7 linked regions of the Homo sapiens genome follow. The protein of the gene in region 6 purifies or fractionates together with the protein of the main gene of each other region. This does not show direct contact. Each region holds a gene or a part of one and is shown on either strand. Other genes may lie near its edges. The genes, in order: PCK2, COQ8A, IARS2, DHX32, SUCLA2, NT5C3A and ALDH18A1.

Region 1 (3,500 bases), on a different chromosome or scaffold from region 6:
AGGATTGGGGTGAATGCTTTGGAGGGACAGGGGAAGGGTGACGGTAACAATACTGACCTTTAGACAGTGGTTATTATACAGGGGACAGTGGGAGCCAAGTGGCAGGAGGAGAGTTGGAGCAGAGGAGGCAGCTTTCCTCTTTTCCTAATGGGCCAAACTTTATGGATAGTGCTTGGAGCCCAATACCTTCTGTAAGAATGTTCAAAAGTCCTTCCTTTTCCTTTCATTAAAAAAAAATCCAGCCTGTATTTATTATTGAGAATTTACTGTGTATTTGTCAGTGTGATAAACCCTTTTTATGCACTATTTAATCCTCCAACAATCTCATGAGATAGGTACTATCACAACTACCCTCATTCAACTGATGTGGAAACTAAAGCTTAGGGAAGTTGAGCAACTTAGCCAGATCACAAAACCAGTGACTGGTGGAGTTGGGACATGAACTGAGATTTTGCCTGGGACTGGAAACTGCAAACGTTCATGACTTCTGTGCCTCCTGGCAGTCCTAGAAGATGGTTGGAGGTTGTGGAGAAAGCTTTTCCACCATTAAGGTGCTGAGGCCTGGAGGCTGTGCCACACCTTCCCCACCGCACATACCAGGTTTCCAGGGTTTGCCCAGCCAGGAGGTCACAGTAACACCAGGTGGAAGAGGCTGGTCAATGCCCTCCCAGTACACGCCACCATCACTGGTCTCAGCCACATTGGTAAAAATAGTGTTACTCTGGATTGTAGCCATGGCGTTGGGATTGGTGGTGGCAGAGGTACCAGGGGCAACCCCAAAGAAGCCGTTCTCAGGGTTGATGGCCCGGAGTCGACCTGTTAGGAGAAGTGAAAGAAAGGAAGGACCAAACAAGGAAAACTTGAGATGTAAGACCAAAGAAGGTCCTGCTCCACCCACCCCTGTCCTGAGATGGACCCAAGATCTGATGAGGAAAGGCTGTCTCTCGGGTGGCTGGGCTGCCAGAGGAATGGAGCAGGGTTGGGTGTTCAGGAAACTTTCTCACTGACAAAGTCATTGTGAACACTAGAGAGGAGACCCCGAGGCTCTGACAAGAGCCAGAACCAAGAGTATGATCTGAGAGTCCCTCACCTTCACTGTCAAACCTCATCCAAGCAATATCATCCCCCACACACTCCACTTTCCAGCCTGGCAGTGCAGGCCGCATCATAGCCAGGTTGGTCTTGCCACAGGCACTAGGGAAGGCGGCTGCCACATAGCGCTTCTTCCCTGCAGGGCTGGTGATGCCCAGGATCTGTGCATTGGGGAGAGAGGGAATAAGAAAGAGGTCACCAAAAGTCAGGGCATGGTCTGCATGGGGAAGGGCAGCTAGGGTCTAATAGGGAGGACCAATGTTTATTAACTATATAAGTGATTGCCCTGCCATCAGGCCTGGGTTAGTGGCAGGGGAAACCTCAACATTCAGCAGCCTGAGGCCAAAGCTTTGGGCCTTCAAGTAGAGTCCCCGCCCACCAGCCTGGCACCTGGCAGGAGGGAGGTGAGGCTGAGGCAGACTGGCCAGGCCCCACCCCTGCCCTGTCCCCGGCAGCTGCCCTGCTTCTCACCAGGCCCTCACCAGCATGTGCTCTGCCAGCCAGCCCTCATCCCGGGCCAGCCGAGAGGCGATGCGTAGGGCAAAGCACTTCTTGCCCAGCAGGGAGTTGCCACCATAGCCGCTGCCGAAGGAGATGATCTCCCGCTGGTCGGGCACGTGGCCAATCAGGGTTTTCTCTGGGTTGCACGGCCACTGGCTCACTGGCTCCCCTGGGGACAATGGGGTCATGGGGCTGCTGGCAGCAGCATCAGGAACTGGGGTGTCGGGGCCAGAGGGATCAGGGATTGGCAGGAGAGACACTTGGGAGCAGTAGCAGCACCAAGAGGTGGCTGAAGCCCCCCACCTCATAATAACCATCAGCTTCCATGCCCCTATTCTTGGACACGGATTTTTCTCAACCTAGTGCAAAGTGCTCTGCAAACACAGCCTTATCCCTCTGCTGGGACTGCTGCTCTGGATCTTGGGAATTAGGTTGCCAGAGAGGACAGGTTCTTAGGGTCTGTGGAGAGGTAGGATTTGGGATTTCCTCTGAGTACAAGAAGGCCTCTGTGTTCCCCTTGGGGCAGAGCAGGTGCTTACCTTGTCCTGTCAGGGGCTGGCCCACGGAGTGCAGACACTTGACAAAGTCACCATCTCCCAGGGCCTGAAGCACAGGTGTCCCCAGTCGGGTCATAATACGCATGCTTGCCACCACATAGGCTGAGTCAGTGAGCTGCACCCCGATGCGGGACAGCGGGGAGCCCACAGGACCCATGCTGAATGGAAGCACATACATGGTGCGGCCTGTGGAGGAAGGCATCCCCTGGATGAAGGGTTCCAAACCTGTTCACATCTTCCGTGCCCTTGCCACTGTGCCCCTGCCCTGGTTACCCTGCATGCAGCCTGGAAACCTCTCATCCACAGCTCGCTGGAAATCAGCTGGGGACATCCAGTTGCCCAGCTGCCCACGGGCCCCACCAGGCGGGAGTGGTACCGTGTCCCGCTGAGAAGGAGTTACAATCACCGTCTTGCTCTCTACTCGTGCCACATCCTTGGGGTCTGTGCGGGCCAGCCAGCTGGGGGAGAGGGGATTGTCAGGAAGATGGTGGCCAGCAGGTTTCCCTTGTCCCTAGACCCACTTTTTCAAGTCCAACTTTGACTCCAGGTCTTCTGTTGGCCTTATGTTTCCCCACCCAATCACATCTCAGTCCCTTCCTCCAGGCTTTGTCCCATCTAAGGGGTGTTCCCCAAGGTCCCAGCCCTCTGGGGGTCTCTGCCCCTGGCAAAAGCTCCCTGAACTGGTGAGGAAAAAAAAAAAAAGCAAAGGATCTTATTTATATCAGCTTCTTCATTTAACATTAAAATAAAATACAAACTACAAACTAGGCTGGGCGCAGTGGCTCATGCCTGTAATCCCAGCACTTTGGGAGGCTGAGGTGGGTGGATCACTTGAGGTTAGGAGTTTGAGACCAACCTGGCCAACATGGTGAAACCCTGTCTCTACTAAAAATACAAAAATCAGCTGGGTGTGGTGGCGCATGCTTGTAATCCCAGCTACTCCGGAGGCTGAGGCAGGAGAATTGCTTGAGACAATTCCCCGGAGGCAGAGGTTGTTGTGAGCTGAAATCATGCCACTGCACTCCAGCCTGGGTGATACAGTGAGACTCCATCTCAAAAAAAAAAAAAAATCCCAGTTTCTTTCTTTTTTTTTTTTGAGACAGAGTTTCGCTCTTATTGCCCAGGCTGGAGTGCAATGACGCGATCTTGGCTCACTGCAACCTCCGCCTCTTGGGTTTAAGTGATTCTCCTGCCTCACCCTCCCAAGTAGCTGGGATTACAGGCATGCGCTGCCATGCTGGGCTAATTTTTGTATTTTTTTTTTTTTTTTTCAGTAGAGACGGGGTTTCTCCATGTTGGTCAGGCTGGTCCCAAACTCCCGACACCTGGTGATCCACCCGCCTTGGCCTC
Region 2 (3,500 bases), on a different chromosome or scaffold from region 6:
CACCCTCCACCCACCCACCACACACCTGCACACCTCTTTATCCTCCACCCACCCTCCACCCACCCGAACACCTCCTTACACACCCTCCACATACCCTCCAAACACCCGCACACCTTGCACACCCTCCACACACCCACCTCTCACCCACACACCTCCTTACACACCCTCCACACCCACCAAATACCTGCACACCTCCTTACACATCCTCCACACACCCACCGAACACCCACTGAACACTGCACCTCCTTACCCTCCACACACCCCCCACAGCCACACACCACCTTACACACTCTCCACACACTCTACCCTCTACACACCCGCCCACCTTACACTCCACACACCCGCCCACCTCCTTACCCTCCACACACCTGCCCACCTCCTTACACACCCTCCACACACCTGCACACCTCCTTACATCTTCCACACACCCACCTCATACCTGCACACCTCCTTACACACCCACCTCACACCCGCATACCTCCGTACACACCCACCTCTCACCCGCACAGCTCCTTACACACCCTCCATGCACACACCTCCTTACACACCCACCTCATACCTGCACACCACCTTACACACCCTCCACACACCCACCAATCACCCACTGAACACTGCACCTCCTTACCCCTCCACACACCCACCACACACCCACACACCTTACCCTCCACACACCCGCACACCTCCTTGTAAACCCACCTTTTGCTGCTGCCCTGCTCTCTGGAAGTCGCTGGTCTGGCCGGGTCAGGTGTGGCTGGGGACAGGCGAGGTGTGCAGGCAGACCCTGCAGGCTTCTCCTCACCAGCTTAGTAACCTGGGGAGGCTGTAGTCTATGCAGAGGCACCTCACCTCTGACGTGAAGGTCACAGCCAGGGTCAGGCAGGTGGTCAGGTCAGGACACTCATCCCACTGAGGTTGGTGGCCCGCTGTGGCCGGGCCCTCTGTGGAGAGGTCCTGCGAACGGACCACGCTGAGGCTTTGGGCATTCGTGCTGCTGTGATGAGGAGTGGGGCGCACTGAGTCCCTGCCGCCTTCTGCCTGTGAACACCAGGCCGGGCTCCTCCTCAGGCCTCTTCAGGCACGGGGGGCGGGCCAGGTAGGTGCGAGGTCAGCCCAGCAGGGGCTTTCCTGTTAGTGGGGCCTGGGGTGTGGAGAGCAGTGCCAAGGGAACCGTCTGCGTGTGGATCTTCCTCAATGCCTCTGGAGTTCTGGGCCAAGTCCCCTGGCCCCGGCCCATTCAGGGAATGTCAGCTCATTCTGGTATCACGCCCTTCCACCCCCGTCCATGGGGACCCCCAGAGACACCCAGTGTCTGGCCACACTGCAGCCCTCACAGCCCTGTCTTCCAGCCTGGGCTAGCCTCCTTTGGGGGCCCTGCCAGTCCCCGGACAGCCCCCCTTCACCCACCAACGCTGCCTTCTGGGGCAAGGGCACTAGTCCATCCCACAGGCCCGGACTGAGTCCTGGGGACACGGGCGGCATGCACGTCCTTGGAAGGGGCTGAGGACGGAGGGCTTAGCAAGGGTATTTTTAGCGTTGGTGCTGACACTCTCTGGGAAATGAAGCCTGGGTTTCTCTGGAAGGAGAAGCCAGCCTTCCCCTACTGTCCCCTACTGTCCTCTCCAAAGCTGGCTGTTCTCCAGACTACCTCATCCAAGCAGGGAAGAGGCCAGGCTGGCTTCACAGTTACAGCTAGTGTCCTTTGTCAGGGACAGTGGTGACCCCAGGCTGGGGGTTAAGGGGCCCAGGCATTGTTAGCCCTGAGAGGGGGACCCGAGGCTTAGGCTGGAGTGGGGTGGCCCTGGGCAGCCCCAAACTGTGCTCCAGCTTCCTGACCAGGCCCTGGCACCCTCTGGACTGGAGGACACCGGCCACCCTGGCTGAGCTCTGCCCTGGAAGGACCTTTCCTGAGCTGGGGGCACACTGCCGTAGCCCTGGGCCCATCCCCACTTGCCAGGTCATTCTCACAGCCAGCCCTGCCTGGGTGGGGGACATACCTCCAGCCTGTGGCATTGACCAGCTTTGCCAATGGGCTACCTGGGAAAGCCCGGATTGGGCCAGGCACCGTTCCCATCTCTCAGGAGTGCTGCTGCTAGCCTAGGCCTACTCTGTGTGTCATGAGGAGACAGACTGTCCCTCCTCTGGCCTGGGGCAGTGGCCTCTCCTCAAGGTTTGCCTCTCTGCCTGCCCCTCCCCAGGGACCCAGGCCCAAGCCCCCAGCCCACAAGTACCACAGGCCTAGGGGGCAGAGGGGACATTGACTGCCTTTCCTTTGGTGCTGGCGTCTGCTGCTGCCTAAGGCAAGGGGGTGGCCGAGGGACCCTTCTGGGCCCAGCCCTCTTGGACTCGCTCTGCCCATGGGTCATAGCTCAGCCTCCCAGGGCAGCTCAGCCTCTTCCCGCAGAGCTAACATCTCCCACCTTCACAGGTCCCTTCCTGCTGTCTGGGACCCTGGAGTGAGCCTGGCCCCTTTCCACGTAGCTGCCTGCATGTGTGGGCAGATGCGGGTCTTCTCCGAGGCTCCTCTTCCGGGCCCGCAGGGCCTCCATTCTCAGGGCGGCCCGCCCCACCCTGGTTTCTCAGGGGCCAGGCTGCACCCGGCTCCGGGGCAGAGGGCAGTGGCACGGTCACCTCTCTCTTCCCCTGCTGGGGACCTGGCTCCGTGCCACCCGAGCGCTGTGCCAGGCCTGAAGTGATTTGAACTGAGGCAAATGCTGGGTGCTGTGGGGGCCAGAGAGGAGGAAGCCGCACTGCGACCTCTTGGGGCTTGAGATCTAACTAGATTCACAGGACAGAAGGCAGGAGAAGCTCCGAATGTCACAAGGGCTGGAGGCCCGGCGACAAGGGGTGCTGAGGAACTCAGGGAAGGTGGAAAGACTTGGAGCCCCAGATCCCTGCTCAGGCCTCTGTCTGCCTCTGGATAGGGGCACCTCCATGTCTAGGCAGCACTGAACTGATGGCCCAGGATAGGGGGGAAGCTAGAGAGGACCCAGCAGCCCTGGGCCACACGCCTGCTGGCAGTTGACTTAGCCGGCCTTCTGCTGCTCCTGAGTCGCGGCCCTCAGCCCTCCCCTTGGTGGACTGGAAAAAGGCCACCTGCACCCTTGGGGTCACTGCATGCTCATCACTGGCCAGCTGGCTGCACTGAGCTGCAGGGGGCCTCTGTGGGTGGACGGGAGAGACGGGCACCCCTGGGCTGTGCTGCCCTTGGCCTGAGCGCCGTTCCCTTGAGGACAGCCCTCTGGCTGAAGCCACTTGGCCCCATGTGCAAATGCATGCCGACCCCACAGGTGCAGCGGGCCTTTGTGCAGTGCCCTGGGTGGGGGTGCACAGGGCAAAGGCTCGGCACCTCCTCACCTGGGGTCCTCTGGGTCCCTACATCCCTCTTGGTTCCCACTCCCACGCCCCTTCCAGCCACAGGCAGCACCATGGCCCTGTCACGGCCCGCCAGGTCCCCATATGGAAGGGAGAGGCCCTTTGTGTGTGTGCGTTTGTGTGTGCAC
Region 3 (3,500 bases), on a different chromosome or scaffold from region 6:
CAAACAAGGTAAATGTAAATTAATAAACTTTTGGAAACTAGAAATATCAGCACTATTGTAGGTTAAAATTTTAGTTTTATCTGAGTGGAACAGACCTTGCTGGAAATAGTAACTATAGCACTCTTGAAGAGAAATATGTCCAGACTTCCCCTCGGACCAGATTTTTCTCTCATGATTAGCTCTATTTTTCCAACAAGAAGGAATAAAGTGGAGTTATACTTTATCTGCACATGTGCTCCTCATAATAAAGTACAGAAATAACCAAAATGGACTATCCTATTTGTCTCATAAGATACTTACTCATTTTCATATAGACTTAAATAATTTCTGTTTTCTGGCTGGGTGTGGAAACTCACACCTATAAATCCTACTACTTTGGGAGGCCGAGGTGGGAGGATTGCTTGAGGCCAGGTGTTCAAGACCAGCCTGGGCAACAGAGCAGGAACCTATCTCTAGAAAAATTTTAAAAATTAGCCAGGCGTGTTAGCCAGTGCATGTAGTCCCAGCTCCTTGGGAGGCTGAGGCAGGAGAATCGCTTGAGCCCATGGTTTTGAGGCTGCAGTGAGCTGTGATTGTGCCACTGCACTCCAGCCTGGTTGACAGAGTGAGACCCTGTCTTAAAAAAAAAAAATTGTGTTTTCTCATAATTGGAAATGTGTTTGCATTAGTGTACCCTTAAGTCAGAGGTGTACATACCAATTTTGCCCAAATCAAAAATAAATGAGGCATAAATGAAGGAACACTAATGAATTGTTGGTGACGTCCACTGTTTGCTGTTGTTAAAATGGTGTGATTTTGTTATTTACAATCTCATTCTTTCCTTAATTAATGTCCTTTCGTAGTTCTCAGAGTAAAATAGTATTTTCTGAGTGTAGTCAAATGTGTTATCCAGAAATGACATTTGGAAGATTCCCAGGAGTTCTTGCATATTGCCTGTTTTGTATTTGTCTCATTGAAACATATTTTTGAAAGGAGCATATTTTGCTTGTGATGACTTACATTTTCATTTGCCTGTCTCAGCTTCCAAATTTATTTTGGCTTTGTTCCCTAGATTACCGAATTATACAAACAATATGATTTTGGAAAAGTTGTTCGGCTGTTACGGACGTTTTATACCAGAGAGCTCTCTAACTTTTATTTCAGTATAATCAAAGATAGGTATGTATGACTAAATATTAAAATGCTTAACAATGGCCAGGTGTGGTGACTCACGCCTGTAATCCCAGCACTTTGGGAGGCCGAGGCGGGTGGATGACATGAGGCCAGGAGTTCGAGACCAGTATGGCAAAATACAAAAATTAGCCGGGCATGGTGGCACATGCCTGTAATCCGAGTCACTCAGGAGACTGAGGCACGAGAATCGCTTGAACTTGGGAGGCGGAGGTTGCAATGAGCAGAGATTGTGCTGCTGCACTCCAGCCTGGGTGACAGAGCAAGATCTCGTCTCAAAAAATAACAACAACAAAACCTCAACAAGTATTTTTTGAGTGTCTACTTGTGTTTGGCAACCGTCAGGGATACAGTGATGAGCAAGATGGGCAGTGTTGTGCAGTTATTAAGATTGGGTTCCGGGCCAGGCGTGGTGCCTCACGCCTGTAATCCCAGCACTTTGGGAGGCCGAGGCGGGCGGATCACGAGGTCAGGAGATCGAGACCATCCTGGCTAACACAGTGAAACCCCGTCTCTACTAAAAATACAAAAAATTAGCTGGGCGTGGTGGCGGGTGCCTGTAGTTCCAGCTACTTGGGAGGCTGAGGCAGGAGAATGGCGTGAACCCGGGAGGCAGAGCTTGCAGTGAGCCGAGATCGTGACACTGCACTTCAGCCTGGGCGACAGAGCAAGACTCCGTCTCAAAAAAAAAAAAAAAAAAAGATTGGGTTCCGGAGTCAAGTCTGAGTATAAAGGTTTGACCTCCCGCTTACTAGCTTTCTGATTTGGGGCAACTTATTCTGTAATCTGTTTCTTCATCTGTAAAATGGGTATAATAATACTTACCTCGTGATTGAGAAGGAAAAGCAATAATGTGCTTAAAGCTGTGCTTGATAAAGTGTTCAAAAAATCATCACTACTAATATCAGACGATGAACATAATGCTTGTTCTCAGGAGTTCTCAAATCCTGAGGGGAAGAGAGAGATATATATGTGCAATTATATGGTAACAGTGTATAATATTAGCAGTATCCTTGTAGAAGAGGCCTTGATGCCAAGTCTTCATCTGTTGCTCCAGTGTGCAGGTGACGGTCCTACCTTCATGGTAATGAGTCCAGTCTGAGGCGTTATCCTCAGCCTGTCAGCACCCCAAGGACCTTGCACATAGGGATTATAACTCCTACTCCTTCCCTTAAAACACTAATAACATTGGAGTGGGTGGGAGCCACATGTTAAATACCATCAACTAACTTATTCATAGTCCTTTAATACAGTAGTCTAGACTCTAGTTGTCATCCACCTGAGAAACAGAATGAGATAGCGTAGCCATGAGTGCTTTCAAGGAGGTGGGTACACCTGGACGGAGTAAAATTGTAGGAGAGTGTATTGTATTCTTTAAGTAGAAGATGATTAGAGCCATAGGATTAGCCACTAGGAATAAACTCAACCTGAGGCAGGTCCCATCTAGGTGACCATAATGTATAAAGTATTGTCAACTGCTGAATAAGTTGTTCTTGTTCAGGCTCTATTGTGAAAAGGAAAATGACCCCAAACGACGCTCTTGTCAGACTGCATTAGTTGAAATTTTGGATGTAATAGTTCGTTCTTTTGCTCCCATTCTTCCTCACCTGGCTGAAGAGGTGTTCCAGCACATACCTTATATTAAAGGTAAGGAATACTTCATTTATTCTCTTAATGAGAAATATCCCTGATCAAGGTGCAACTTCTACTTCTATCTGCTTCATAAAAGGGGCACTTATCCATTTACAGTGACTGCTGTGTGACACAGTGTGTCTTGGTCATGTATTTGTTTCTGCACCTATTTGTAGAGGAGTAGGGTAAATTTCAGAATTCTGTGCTTTCTGAAATGTATTAGCAGCTTGACAGTGTCGAGAAATCACCTTTTTTCTTAAATACCTTTATAACTGTTCTGAAATGGCTGGCATGGTGGCTCACACCTGTAATCCCAGCACTTTGGGAGGCCGAGGTGGGCAGATCACTTGAGGTCAGGAGTTCAAAATTAGCCAGGCCAACATGGCGAAACCCCATCTCTACTAAAAATATAAAAATTAGTGGGGCATGGTGGTGGCGGGTGCCTGTAGTCCCAGCTACTTGGGAGGCTAAGGCAGGAGAATTGCTTGAACTCGGGAGGTGGAAGTTGCAGTGAGCCAAGATCATGCCACTGTACTTCAGCCTGGGTGACAGAGCAAGACTGTCAAAAAAAATGTTCTGAAATATATTTTAGGTTGTATTAAAACAAAATATAGTGCTTTTAGTGAGTTTTATGTTAGTTGTTTTCTTCTGATTGTATTAAGTTTATAAAAATTAGAAACTATAGAAGTGTAGGAAGA
Region 4 (3,500 bases), on a different chromosome or scaffold from region 6:
TTTCTTGTATAGGCACAAATTTATCTTTAAAAAGGTAACTTTTCAGAGCTACTCCTATGTCTACACTTTCTCAAAATGTGCAAAGGAGGCATATTTTGGGGTCACATATTCTGGTCTCCTTCAGTCATATTCTGGGGAGGTATGTCCTGAGCCCCAACATTAGATAGTTAATAAATACTTATTATTCAGTTTGTTGTTGTATTTGGACTTCAAGTTTTTGTTCAAGTGAGATCCATATTTTACTCTTAAGTTTTAAAGCAAGCAACCAGTATTTTTATCATGAAATTCATTTCTAGATTCTCGCGATGTAAGAATTAGAATAGACCATATAGTGTGAATAATAAGAAGTCCCATTTCTCATAGAGAAGTTACGAATAGATCTAGTAGAATAGACTATGCTCTAATAGAATAGAATTAGAAACTGATGGAACCCCTTCATTTTTCAGATGAATAAACTGTGGCCCAGAAGGATTTGATAATTTGTCTATCTAATGTCAGTAGCTTTCTGAATTGGAGTTAAAAGAATATTTTCTACTATAAATTGTTGCTTTCAAGTTGTTTATTATCTCTAGAGTTTACCTATTTTATTATCACTATTATTTTTTGAGACAGAGAGGCTCGTTCTGTCACCCAGGCTGGAATGCAGTGGGGCAGTCTTGGCTTACTATGACCTCCGTCTCCCGGTTCAAGCAATTCTTGTGCCTCAGCCTCTTGAGTAGCTGGGATTACAGGCATGCACCATCATGCTTGGCTTATTTTTGTATTTTTAGTAGAGTCAGGGTTTCACAATTTTGGCCAGGCTGGTCTCGAACTCCTGGGCTCAAGCGATCCTCCCACCTTCACCTCCCAAAGTGCTGGGATTACAAACATGAGCCACTGTACCTGCCCTAAAGTTAACTTACTTTAAAGGTAATTTGAAAAGAGGAGGGCTGGACAACAGATGTTTTTTATCTGATTTACAGCTGCCAGTATCAAAGGTTTATTATGATTTGTTCTTTGTTACGCTGTTATTGTTATAACAAACGATTTCAGTTCATTACGAGAAGCTAACGATGAGAACTGACTGAGTATAATTTTCCTAGTTTCTGTGGACAAATAACATTGAAAAAATGTGTTTTTATTTTACAATAATTTCAAACTTACAAAAAGTTGCAAAAATAGTACAAAGATTTTCCATATGTTGTTCACCCAGATTCCCCAAATGTAAGATTTTACCATATAAACTTTATCTTTCCCTCCCTGCCCCCTCCATACATTCATACACATTTTTATTCTGAACCATTTAGGGGTAGGTTGAGGACATGATGCCCTTTGCCTCCAAATACTTAACAGAGTATTTATTTACTGAAAAACAGTGTGTAGCCGTAACATAATTATCAAAATCTGGAATGTAATGTTGATATCTAATTATTATCTGATTTCTAGACATTCACATTTAATCAGTTTCCCATTGATAGCCTTTATAATCACTGAAAAAAATTGTTTTTCTGGTCCAAAATCCAATCTAAAATTGCATTGTATTTTATTGTCGTTTTTTAATCTGACACAACTCCCCAGTCTCTCCCTGTCCTTTATGACTTTGACATTTTTGAAGAGCACAGGTTATATATTCTGCAGAACCTCCCTCAGTTTGAACATGTCTGATGTTTCCTTAGGGTTAGGTTCCGGCTCTGCATTTGTGGCAAGAAGATCACACAAGTGCTGTGTATCCTTCTCAGTGCCTCATATCAGGAGGCACAAGATGTCAGTTTTGCCCATGCTGGTGATGTTAATTCTGATCCCTTGGTAAGGTGGTATCTGCCTGGTTCTTTATTGAAAAGTTAACAATTTCCCTCCAATCATTTAATAGATACATATTTTGAAAGTATGTAAATGTTTCTCATTATACATTTGTAACCACCCAATGGGTTCATCTTGTTTGTTGTCAAGATAGAGCCAATTTATCAAGACAAGGGAATTGAAATAGAGAATGAATTTAATACACATAAAGCTGGCTAAACAGCAGACAGGAGTTGTACTATTACTCCAATCAGCCTCTTTGTCAATTTGGAGGCTAGAGTTTTTCAAGGATAGTTTGGTGGGCAGGGGGCTAAGGAATGGGTACTGCTGATTGGCTGAGGATGCAATCACAGAGGTGTGGAAAACAGTCCTCATGTGCTGAGTCCACTTCTGGGTAGGGACAACAGAGGAGTTACTGGTCTATCCAGTTATAGGGCCTCCAGTTGTCAGAAATACAAAAACCTGAAAAGACATCTCAGAAGGCCAATCTTAGGTTCTATAATAGTGATGTTATTTACAGGGAGGTTACAAATCTTGTGACCTCTGGAATAATGACTGGTAATCATTTAACTACACCTACATCTTGGCAGAATTCAGGCCCCTCTCATCCTCCTAACCTGGTGTCCTTTCATTAGTTTTACAAAGGCAGTTTCATTTTGCTGTCATCATTTAAACTATAAACTATCTACAAAAGTTAGCTTGGCCCACTGCAGGAATGGCTAAGGGAGTTTGGGGGTGAAAGGCAAGATGGAGTTGTCAGGTCAGATCTCCTTCACCATCATAATTTTCTCACTGTTACAATTTCTGCAAAGGCAGTTTCACATTCATCCACTAGTGTTAGCATTTTTGGTGATTCTTACCTTTGAATTATTACATTAGTAGTAACCAAAGATGATTATTCTAATTCTGACATGCCTTCTACACATTATTTAGAATCTTTCTGTAAGTCTGAGCTTTCTCTCCTTCATCATTTATTTATGTCAATGTGGACTCATAAATTCTTATTTTATTCTATGGGTTATAATGTATTACTAAGCCTACTTACTTTGTTGTTCAAATTGCCCCCAATGTGGCTTCTCTGTCCTTTTGACATTTCCCCATTATTGAGCACTTCTTTGCTTTCTGGCTCAGTAAGATGTTCCAGGTTCATCTAGTACATTCCGCATGCCGGTGTAGAAACCATTTTTTTTTTCTCCAGGAGTCCTTGTTCCGTTTAGTGGTGAACTGTGTTTTGAAACCAAGATCTGGACACTAAGTACCTATTACCATTGGTTTATCATTGCAATTTTTTTTTTGAGACAGTGTTTCATTCTGTCACCCAGGCTGGAGTGCAGTGGCATGATCACGGCTCACTGCAACCTCAACATCCTGGGCTCAAGTGATCCTCCCACCTCAGCCTTTAGAGTAGCTGGGACTACAAGTGTGTGCCACTACACTCAACTAATTTTTGTATTTTTTATAGAGACGGGGTTTTGTCATGTTGCCCAGGTTGGTCTCGGACTCCTGGGCTCAAGCAACCTACCTGCCTTGGCCTCCCAAAGTGCTGGGATTATAGGCCCACTTCACCCGGCCTATCATTGCTTTTAGGCCATCTCAGTGGACACAACAAGGAAATAAATGTATGTGAGTGCAATATACACACGTCTCATTCTATCCATCTATTTGTGGCTCTGTTTCTCTCTGTCTTTCTCTATTTTTATGTATTTCTATTTTCTTACCTC
Region 5 (3,500 bases), on a different chromosome or scaffold from region 6:
TGGAATTTCTCATTTAAAATTTTTGGACCACAGTTGACTGCAGGTAACTGAAACTGTAGAAAGTGAAATTGGATAAGGGGGGGACTTTGTGTGTGTGTGTGTGTGTGTGTGTGTGTGTGTGTGTGTGTGTCTCCCTTTTCCCACTTTAGATTAATGGTAATCTATACTTTGTTTCTTTTACTTAACAATAATGTGTATCAGAGAACACTTCATAGTAGATACAGAGAGATGAGAATTTTTTGTCTTCCCTTCCATTATGTTTATAGACATTTCATTGAACACTCGAACACTCTTTGGGCTCTATAGCTTAATCAATAGTAGATTCTTGATTTTTTTTTTTTTTTTTTTTTTGAGACTGAGTCTTGCTCTGTCACCTAGGCTGGAGTACAGTGGCGTGATCTCAGCTCACTGTAACCTTTGCCTCCTGGGTTTAAGCAATTCTTGTGTCTCAGCCTTCTGAGTAGCTGAGACTACAGGTGTGTGCCACCACGCCCAGCTAATTTTTTTTTTTTTTTTTTTTTTTTAAGACAGAGTTTTGGTCTTGTTGCCCAGGCTGGAGTGCAGTGGTGTGATCTCGGCTCACTGCAACCTCCATCTCCCAGGTTCAAGCAATCCTCCTGCCTCAGCCTCCCAAGCAGCTGGGATTACAGGCATGTACCACCATGCCTGGCTAATTATGTATTTTTAGTAGAGATGCGGTTTCACCATGTTGGTCAGGCTGGTCTTGAACCCCTGACTTTGTGATCCACCTGCCTCGGCCTCCCAAAGTGCTGGGATTCAGGTGTGAGCCACTGCGCCCAGCCTTGTATTTTTAGTAGAGATAGGGTTTTGCCATGTTGACCAGGCTGGTCTCGAACTCCAGACCTCATATGATCCTCCCACCTCGGCCTTCCAAAGTGCTGGGATTACAAGCATGAGCCCCCAGGCTTGGCCAGACTCTTGAATTTACCGAGTTAATGTGATGTCATTTCACAAAAATAATAAAAGTCTTATGTCCTTCTTTGGGAAAGTACTTACTAGTAAACAAAATTTAACTCTAGCTTGGAGACAGAAGAATTTAAACTTAAACCTGAATTAAAAATAAAGAATTTGAGCAAGGGAATAGTAGGAGAAAGTATTTCAGAAAGCCTATTTTGACTTTGAGATGTGGGATATATTGAAGGGAAAAGGGGAGAGATAGTAGGAGTCCATCTAGTGCAATACTTAGATATGAGAAAAGGTGAAGGTAATAAATAGGTTATAACTTGTCTCTGAAAGTGCACTTTTTTGGAATGAAAACTTAAATTAAGAAAAGCTTGGAGGACATGAAAAGAAGGAGAAGAACCAGTAGGACCTTGATCAAATAGATCATGAGAGGTAAAAGTGAACAGTTGATTTAAATTATGACTACAGTGTTTTTATTGACTGGGAGATTATAGAAGTCATAACAATAATAATATTGAATGAGATGATGATGATATTAGCAGTTACTACTGTTTATTGAGTGTTTACTGTGCATGCAATGCTAAGCTGTTTTCTTCAAGGATTATCTCATTTAATATGAATTTGGTGATAAAATTTCCATTTTTATAGATGAAGAAACAGGCTAGATAAGTTAACTTATTCAAGGTTGTATGTCATAAGCATCAGAGGGGGGATTTGCAGCCAAAGATATCTAACTTCAAAGCCTTTTCTTAACTAATTTACTGAGGAAGAGAGAAGCTGAGTTTGTTTTTTTGGTCTTAGACATGTCTAAATTTGTATGATGTTTTGTATGGTAACTGGTGGATATTTTTAGACAGATTGTAGAGAGAATTGGAACTCAGGTTAGCAATTGTTAACTTACTGACAAAAAGTAAAATACTAACTAGTAGACCCAAATTTCTATCCCAACATTTTAAGTTAAGATTGTATACTTATTTCAAAACAAATTTTTACTTAGATGTGCTTTGAGTTGTGGAGTATCCAACAAAGACACTCACTGTTTCTGTCTTTAAGATAAAATTTAGAATAATATATATATATATACACACACACACACACACACACATACATACACACACATTTTATACACACATATATAATCTTATGTAATACATATGTGTAATCCTAGCAGGTGGTATAACATCTTAATCAGAAAGTATTTAATTGAAGTTTGGACTATGAGGAGTGTCAGACTTGATTATCCTTTGAGAATGTCATTTGCTTATAAGAACGTAATGTGATTTATAGCAATGTCAGAATAGTCCAGATGTTTTAAATGGAAAAAATTGAGTGTACATTAATTTTGCACTGACCTGTAGTTCTGAATTTACCTTTTTGTGAAAATTCTTCGTTCTTTTCTTTTAGGTTGTAAAGCTCTCTGAAATAGTGACCTTAGCGAAGCAAGCACATGTGGATGTGAAATTTCAGTTGCCAATATGATCTGAAAACCCAGTGGATGGCTGAAGGTGTTAAATGTGCTATAATCATTAAGAATACTGTGTTCTGTGTTATTGTTCTTTTTCTTTTTAGTGTGTGGAGATTGTAATTGCCATCTAGGCACACAAACATTTAAAAGGATTTGGACTGCATTTAATTGTACCATTCAGAATGGACTGTTTGTACGAAGCATGTATAATGCAGTTATCTTCTTTCTTTTGTCGCAGCCAGTCTTTTTTGCTTCTCCTACAAAACGTAACTTGCAATTTGCCAGTTTATTATTGTTGGATACAAAGTTCTTCATTGATAAGAGTCCTATAAATAAGATAAATACGAAGATAAAGCTTTATTCTTTAGTGTTAAAATACAGTATATCTAATAACTAGCCTCATTAGTAGAGCAGTATATTAAAACAATGTTTTATGTAAAAAGTGTTTATCTTCAGCACCAAATACATGATAAATGTATCAATCACTATTTATAAACAGAGCTTTCAAACACTCCTCAGAATATTCTTCTAAGTATTTTGATGAAGTAACTTTGTAATTATTTGAACATTGTTTTAATCATTAGGAAACACTGATTAACTGCAAGTCTTCATGATTCTGTCATATTAAGAAACACCTGTAGGTTTGCTTCAAATAAAGGCATATATACCAAGGACTTACAGACAAAATTAAGAATGTCAATTTAAGTTAATAAAAATCTCCCAATATGATTTGGGTTCATGGCTTTTGTTTGCTTGTTTTGAGGTAAACACAGTAGAAGTTGATTTGTTCGTTATTGCAGTATAGAGGTCTAAGCACCAATTCTTAGATCATATACTTGCCATGACAGTGATTTGTTTTTTTTTTTGAGTCAGGGTCTCACTCTGTCACCCAAGCTGGAGTGCAGTGGTATGATCATGCTCACTGCAACCTCTGCCTCCTGGGCTCAAGCAGTCCTCCCACCTGAGCCTCCTAAGTAGCAGGGACTACAGGCACACACCACAAAAAAACATATGTGTTTTTTTTTGTTTTTGATTTTTGTTTTTTTTTTGGTAGGGACAGGGTATCACTATGTTGCTTAGGCTGGTCTCTTACTCCTGAGCTCAAGCAATC
Region 6 (3,500 bases):
CAGGTCCTAAAAAGTCATAAATCTAAGCACTGATATAAATTAGATAAAAATTGAGATATGGAGATATTTTAAAAGTCTGTCCAGGTATGGTGGTTCACACCTATAATCCCAGCACTTTGGGCAGCCAAGGCAGGAAGACTGCTTGAGCCCAGGAATTTAAGACCAGCCTGGGCAAATAGTGAGACCCCGTCTCTACCAAAAAAAAAAAAAAAAAAAAAAAAAAAAAAAAAAAAAAAAAAATTTAACTTAGCCAGGTGTGGCGCCACATGCCTGTAGTCCCAGCTACTTGGGAGGCTGAAGTGGGAGGACTGCTTGAGCCCACGAGTTTGAGGCTGCAGTGAGCCATGATCGCTTCATTGCACTCCAGCCTGGCAGCAGGGTGAGACCTAGTCTCAAAAATAAAATAAAATAAAGTCTATTTGATTCACTAAAGCAGTTGTTTAAAACTTGGGTTGCTTCTCCCTTCTTTTTTAAAACACAGACTCAATAGTGGGCTTTCGATTCACTCAGTATAATACCCAGAAAACATGTGATATTTTCTTTGTTTTTTTTGAGATGGAGTTTTGCTCTTGTTCCCCTGGCTGGCGTGCAATGGTGTGATCTCCGTTCACTGCAACCTCCGCCTCCTGGATTCAAGTGATTCTCCTGCCTCAGCCTCCCGAGTAGCTGGGATTACAGGCATGTGCCACCATGCCCGGCTAATTTTTTGTATTTGTAGTAGAGATGGGGTTTCTCCATGTTGGTCAGGCTGGTCTCGAACTCCCAACCTCAGGTGATCCGCCCGCCTTGGCCTCCCAAAGTGCTGGGATTACAGGTGTGAGCCACCGCACCCGGCCCTTTTTTGTTTTTTTAACTGCTCCTTGAGGAGCAGGGCTAACTCATAGGCAATGCACCCAGAGTTGGCCTATATTGTCTTAAAGTGGAAGAAGGGAAGAAGTTTTTGTTAACAGTTTATTTACTAGGACCAGGCACAGTTGGTACACACCTGTAATCCCAGCATTTTGGGAGGCCAAGATGGGTGGATCTCTTGAGCCCAGCAATCTGAGAACAGCCTGGGCAATGTGGCAAAACCCCCATCTCTACAAAAAAATACAAAAATTAGTTGGGCGTGGTGGTGCGTGCTTTAGTCCTGGCTACTCTGAAGGCGAGATGGGAGGATGGCTTGAGCCCAGGAGGTGGAGGTTGCAGTGAGCTGAGATTCAACCACTGCACTCCAGCCTGGGTGATCGAGTGAGACCCTGCCTCAAAAAGAAAATAAAATAAAAAAAGAAGTTTATGTCCTAGAAAGAAACACAGTATGCTAAAGTTTTAAAAAAACCACATCAGCTACTTAAGTAATAGTTGACATTAACAACAAAGCAATAAATTGTTGAGATATGTTTAAATTGGAAATGACCATTTTTAACTGGTTGTAGAGGTTCTAGTGATCGTTCCATCTCCCCTATCCCCCACATCAGCTACTTAAGTAATAGTTGACGTTAACAACAAAGCAATAAATCGTTGAGAGATATATTTAAATTGGAAATGACCATTTTTAACTGGTTGTGGAGGTTCTAGTGACCATTCCATCTCCCCTATCCTGCTGTCTAAATAATTTCCTCCCTTCCTCGTTGGTTTTTAGGGGCTAAGCTTAAGACTACACATTCATTCTAGTGTTGTGCTTGCATTTTACTTCACTGGATAAATACTCTACTTTAGAGAATTTAATAAAGGATATTAGAATAACTGAATAAGATTAAGCAATCTCATTTTTTTTTCCTTTTGGCTCTTTCTTTGAATTCTAGTCTCATCCTCTTTTTGGTAGCTTTATTAGAGAAAAACTGAAAATTTGCTGATAAAAATAGAATACATTCTGATATTGCAGGAGAAATTAGAAAAGAAGTCGGTATGTAACATTTGAAAGAGGTGTCATTTAGTAGGAAAAATCAGATTAACTGGATAGAAGTAATGAATGAAGTAGGTGGAGGCAATTAATCTAAGGCTGTAAATAATAAGATGTAATATAATGAGAATATGGAGAGTAAGTAACTATAATTCAGTATGAATAGTACACTTTTATTATTTTTTTATTTTATTTTATTTTATTTTGAGATGACATCCTGCTCTGTCACCCAGGCTGGAGTGCAATGGTGCAATCTTGGCTCACTGCAACCTCTGCCTCCTGGTTTCAAGCGATTCTCCTGCCTCAGCCTCCCAAGTAGCTAGGATTACAGGCACCCGCCACGACGCCCAACTACTTTGTTTTTTTATTTTTAGTAGGGACGGGGTTCCACCATGTTGGTCAGGCTGGTCTTGAACTCCTGACCTCAGATGATCCACCCGCCTTGGCCTCCCAAAGTGCTGGGATTACAGGCGGGAGCCGCCGCGCCTGGCCCAGAGTAGTACACTCTTTCAGAAAGACAGAGATGTTCCGTATTCCCCTCAAAAGGCATCTGTCCACATCTCCCCTAGAACTTTGCTAGACTGATTATTTTTTCTCCTCCTCTTATCTTTAACCATTTGCTTTTCACTACTCCTCTGCCCACCAACATACTTCTGTGCCAACCATTCGAAAAACAAAACAAAATACCCATCCTCAGCACAACTACTTCCTCTGCCCAAAAGTCATTTTTTAGTTGTCTTCACATCATTGTTTTACCAACGGCGGCTCAACCCACTGCTACCATAGCCTTTCAGACCAACTTCTGATCTTGTCATCAACTTCTGACCTTAGAGAAGATGGACATAGCTAATTCTGCCCCTTCTTTTGGAAACATTTCCTGTTATTCCACCTCTGACAGCTTTCAGCATCTTTACTGAACTTGGCATTGCCAAGTTTTCTGTTTTCTTCTCGCTGTAAAACTATGGATGAGAAATAATATCCAGCTCCACACTGGCCATTGAGAGGCTAGACATTAGGGAAAATATTATTTCTAGCCTCAATTTATCTTTAGAGCTCCAGCCTTCCATTTTCAGTTGCTATTGCTAATAATAACAATAAGTAATGTATATATTGGTTACTCTGGGCCAGGCACTTTTCTAAGCACTTTAAATATATTAACTATTTCATGAACATTTCTAGTTGGTCATTCCTTGATCATCTCAAATTTCATATGACTTAAAGTGAACTTGTGATTCCACATTTCCCTTACCTCCTGGCTACTTTCCAAACCTGCCATTTTTTCCTTCTCTTCATCTTGGCTAATAATATAACCAGAATCAGCAGTTACCTGATAATCTTAAAGTTATTTCTCCTTACAATTAATCCCTTTATCTAATGATCACAAATAATAAGCTCTGAAAGAAAGCAATTATGTTCTAGGCACTGTGTTATCTCATTTAATCTTCACAACCTATGAAGTAGGTACTATCATTATCTCCCAATTAATAGATGAAAAATGGGAGATTCAGAGAGGTTAAGTAATTTGCCCAAGGTCACATGGCTTGATAAATGAGAAAAACTAGATTCAAAACTAGGTTTGTATGACTCTACAGTCTGTGCACAAAGTCCCGTTGATTTT
Region 7 (3,136 bases), on a different chromosome or scaffold from region 6:
TGAGCTAAGATGATGCCATTGTACTCCAGCCTGGGAGAGAGTGAGGCCCTATCTGTATAACAAAACAAAACAGAAAGACACACATTTTAATCCTTCTGAACTTTTTGAGTAGATGATCTGCCTGGAGAAATAATTCTCACCAAATTGTTAAAAGGTTATGAAAGGGAATTTAACTCAGTTATTCTTAATCATGATACTCTTTATTTTTAGTTCCCCATTTGTATTATGTTGGGATTTTGATGTAATTATCACATCACTTGCATTGATCTTTATACTCTCCATGTACTTGAAAAAGAAATAGCAACATATTTTTAAGGGCTGGGGCACCCAGCATTCAAATGAAAATCCAGGATGAAGGAAGAACAAAAGATCATTTCATTGTCCTTCCAACACCAGCTCAGAGTGAAAGCTGGTTGAGTTAAATTCCTTGTGAAATGCATTAATGACAGTAACAGATTTTACTGAGCATTTACTACATTCCCAGCACTGTGCTAAATGTGTCGCAAGCATGCTCTCACTTCATTCTACAAGATGAATTCTCATTTTCCAGATGAAGAAACTGAGGCATGAGACATAAAGTTAGGTAGTATGTCCAAAGTCATGTGGTCTGTATGCTATTGAACCAGAATTTGAATCCTGCTGGTTTCACTCTCCTTGCCAACCACTACCCCAAGCACATCCCGCCCCTACTGTGTCTCGTACTTGCTCTTCTCTCTGCCTGCAGCACCTCTGTCTGGTTTTCTCCAGCCAGCTCCTTCTCACTGTTCAGGTCCCAACCAAAAGGCACTTCCTTAGGGAGGCTTTCCCTGACCATCCTACCCAGCGTGTCCCCAGCTCCACCACACAGCCTCTGTCATAGCACCCATCACTGCACTTGAGCACCACAGGAGACTATTTACTCACCTGTCCTTTGGCTGCCTCGCCTGCTATAATATCAGCGCCACAAAAACAGGGCCTTGTATCTATTATTCACCACTTTATCCCCAGGGCTCAACACAGTGCCTAGTACATAGTACATGCTCAGTAAAGTTGTGATGATTGAGGGAACCCTGCCTCCACTGTATACAGTGCAGAACACCAAGCCAGGGCCAGGAAAACCCCTGACGTTCCCTAGGTCTGAGCTGGGAGCAAGAGAAAAGGGAATGAACAGTAACCCTTTGATGTATTCAGTAACTGTCTAATGAGTCCCTTGTGCTAAGACTTCTAGGGGATACCACAAACATGTCCCTTTCTTTCTAAGATTTAAAGAGTATTTGAGGAGGTGAAACCATCATGGTAAACATTGTCGTACCCCTCAAAACATGCCCAAATGTCAAAATATGGTATGCAATTCAGATGCTAAACTGATAAAAGAGACAGCACTTGTATTAATAGCATTGTCAAAATGCACTGGGGATAAAATACAGAAGAAGAGTCCACACACTGTTTCACGAGAAGGAGTGTATCATGATTTGTAGTAATCGAAGAACATGTTTATGGGAACAGGGTGACTCAGCTCTTCTGGGGAGGATGGATGAGGAGTTAGCAGGAAGAGAGGGTACCAAGTGAGGGGAAAGCAGCAGGGTGGGTCTGGGGCATGGACAGGAAGCAGAGGCTGGGAAAAGCTACATCTTTTATTCATGCTTTTTCACAGGAGCTGAAGTGGGAATCAGTACATCGAGAATCCACGCCCGGGGACCAGTAGGACTTGAGGGACTGCTTACTACTAAGTGGCTGCTGCGAGGGAAGGACCACGTGGTCTCAGATTTCTCAGAGCATGGAAGTTTAAAATATCTTCATGAGAACCTCCCTATTCCTCAGAGAAACACCAACTGAAAAGAGCCAGGAAAACCCGGGAATTTTCCAAAAGGTCTTCACGTTAAACTTGTCTTATCTCAGGAGAGAGCCCGCTCTTGTCTCCCAGTTCCTGGTAGGGTCTGCCTGTTGGAAAGTGTACCTGGATGCTTCTGGGCTCCGTTTGGCAATAGCAGTCTTGGCTGATGTGCACAGTCTGGCTCCCAGCTCACCCTTTTTTTTTAAAGTAAGAAAATAGTTGCTACCGATAGGGACTTTGCCAAGTCCAATTATCTTCTAGGATTGAAAGGTGCATTTTCCCCATAAAAAAGGCGAGGAAAACCCATGGCTGCTTTGTGTCACCTCAGTGACTTACAGTCCCCCTTGGCATTTAGTTGGTACTAGAGCCAGTCATCCTTAACAAATCTTTTCACATTTTATTTCTTTCACATGTAGTCATCTTCAAAAAGGAAAGATTTGGAATTTTAGAAAAGGGGCAACTCTTCTTTTTAGCATTCTCATCAGAAAGTCACAAAAATCGATGGAATCATTTCCACTGGGAAGATTGACCTTTTGTATTTATTTGTGGGGTAAATTAATAAGCATTCCAGATGCTTGCAGCTTCCTGCATCCAGGAGATGCTGTGTTCCCCGTGATGCAGCTGGAACCCAAGCTGCAGCAGGAGATGCAAGTTTCAGGATGTTCCCCACTGAGCTGGAGGAATATCTACAGCAGTGATGCTTGAAATTTTTGTATGAATTATTTTGTCGTCCTACCCTTTTCCTCCAAAACAAAAATTAGAGGATTATTTTAATACTTTGGATTCTTCCCCCTTTTTTGAGAAATAAAGTTTTTTATGAAAAGCCTGTGCGTGATTGAAGTTTTCTCCCTTAATTGTTGTTACCCCCTTCCTTTTCCTCTCTTGTGACCCTCGTGCCCTGCTTGTGGGCATGGTCTCTTCTCTGGAAGCTGTCTGGGGAGACAAGACATCTGCCTCAACAGTGTTTGTTGGTGGAAGCAACATAGGCAGTCCCCACAGAGGGACTCAGACGGAGAGACAGGAAAGGAAAACAGGAGATTAAGCCCCAAGAGCTTGAAGACTAAAAGTGCAGTGAAGGTCTGAAGTTGGTGGGGTCCAACCTGAGCGAGCTCCCGCGGTGGCACATAGCCCCAGCTGACATCCTTAGTTCACTGCATCCCCCCAGCTCCTCCCTGCCAGTCCTGTTGCCTCAGGATCACTTGACAGCTCGGACCCTCCCCACTCTCCCTCCATCTCTAGCTCCTGTCCTTAGGGCCCCTGGTGCCTGACAGTCTGCAGTTGAAAGATTTCATGGGGGCCTCCTAAAGAAATAAGCACTCGCTT

Evidence for each region.
Region 1: the proteins of NT5C3A (region 6) and PCK2 purify together in Homo sapiens (affinity purification with mass spectrometry; one large-scale study listed by BioGRID and IntAct). This does not show direct contact.
Region 2: the proteins of NT5C3A (region 6) and COQ8A purify together in Homo sapiens (affinity purification with mass spectrometry; one large-scale study listed by BioGRID and IntAct). This does not show direct contact.
Region 3: the proteins of NT5C3A (region 6) and IARS2 purify together in Homo sapiens (affinity purification with mass spectrometry; one large-scale study listed by BioGRID and IntAct). This does not show direct contact.
Region 4: the proteins of NT5C3A (region 6) and DHX32 purify together in Homo sapiens (affinity purification with mass spectrometry; one large-scale study listed by BioGRID and IntAct). This does not show direct contact.
Region 5: the proteins of NT5C3A (region 6) and SUCLA2 purify together in Homo sapiens (affinity purification with mass spectrometry; one large-scale study listed by BioGRID and IntAct). This does not show direct contact.
Region 7: the proteins of NT5C3A (region 6) and ALDH18A1 purify together in Homo sapiens (affinity purification with mass spectrometry; one large-scale study listed by BioGRID and IntAct). This does not show direct contact.

What each region holds. Positions count from the first base shown.
Region 1 is NC_000014.9:24,097,311-24,100,810, reverse strand, and holds part of PCK2 (phosphoenolpyruvate carboxykinase [GTP], mitochondrial isoform 1 precursor), read right to left. Parts: intron 2,609-3,500; coding exon 2,424-2,608; intron 2,337-2,423; coding exon 2,133-2,336; intron 1,763-2,132; coding exon 1,575-1,762; intron 1,254-1,574; coding exon 1,091-1,253; intron 817-1,090; coding exon 598-816; coding exon of another isoform or gene 506-597; exon of another isoform or gene 58-505; intron 1-57. UniProt on the Homo sapiens protein: Mitochondrial phosphoenolpyruvate carboxykinase that catalyzes the conversion of oxaloacetate (OAA) to phosphoenolpyruvate (PEP), the rate-limiting step in the metabolic pathway that produces glucose from lactate and other precursors derived from the citric acid cycle.
Region 2 is NC_000001.11:226,978,294-226,981,793, forward strand, and holds part of COQ8A (atypical kinase COQ8A, mitochondrial), read left to right. Parts: intron 1-3,500. UniProt on the Homo sapiens protein: Atypical kinase involved in the biosynthesis of coenzyme Q, also named ubiquinone, an essential lipid-soluble electron transporter for aerobic cellular respiration.
Region 3 is NC_000001.11:220,139,132-220,142,631, forward strand, and holds part of IARS2 (isoleucine--tRNA ligase, mitochondrial precursor), read left to right. Parts: coding exon 1-8; intron 9-1,051; coding exon 1,052-1,158; intron 1,159-2,671; coding exon 2,672-2,817; intron 2,818-3,500.
Region 4 is NC_000010.11:125,874,793-125,878,292, reverse strand, and holds part of DHX32 (putative pre-mRNA-splicing factor ATP-dependent RNA helicase DHX32), read left to right. Parts: intron 1-3,500.
Region 5 is NC_000013.11:47,942,274-47,945,773, reverse strand, and holds the end of SUCLA2 (succinate--CoA ligase [ADP-forming] subunit beta, mitochondrial precursor), read left to right. Parts: intron 1-2,328; coding exon 2,329-2,403; 3' UTR 2,404-3,118; downstream 3,119-3,500. UniProt on the Homo sapiens protein: ATP-specific succinyl-CoA synthetase functions in the citric acid cycle (TCA), coupling the hydrolysis of succinyl-CoA to the synthesis of ATP and thus represents the only step of substrate-level phosphorylation in the TCA.
Region 6 is NC_000007.14:33,056,277-33,059,776, forward strand, and holds part of NT5C3A (cytosolic 5'-nucleotidase 3A), read right to left. Parts: intron 1-3,500. UniProt on the Homo sapiens protein: Nucleotidase which shows specific activity towards cytidine monophosphate (CMP) and 7-methylguanosine monophosphate (m(7)GMP). CMP seems to be the preferred substrate.
Region 7 is NC_000010.11:95,605,441-95,608,576, reverse strand, and holds the end of ALDH18A1 (delta-1-pyrroline-5-carboxylate synthase), read left to right. Parts: intron 1-1,633; coding exon 1,634-1,815; 3' UTR 1,816-2,636; downstream 2,637-3,136. UniProt on the Homo sapiens protein: Bifunctional enzyme that converts glutamate to glutamate 5-semialdehyde, an intermediate in the biosynthesis of proline, ornithine and arginine.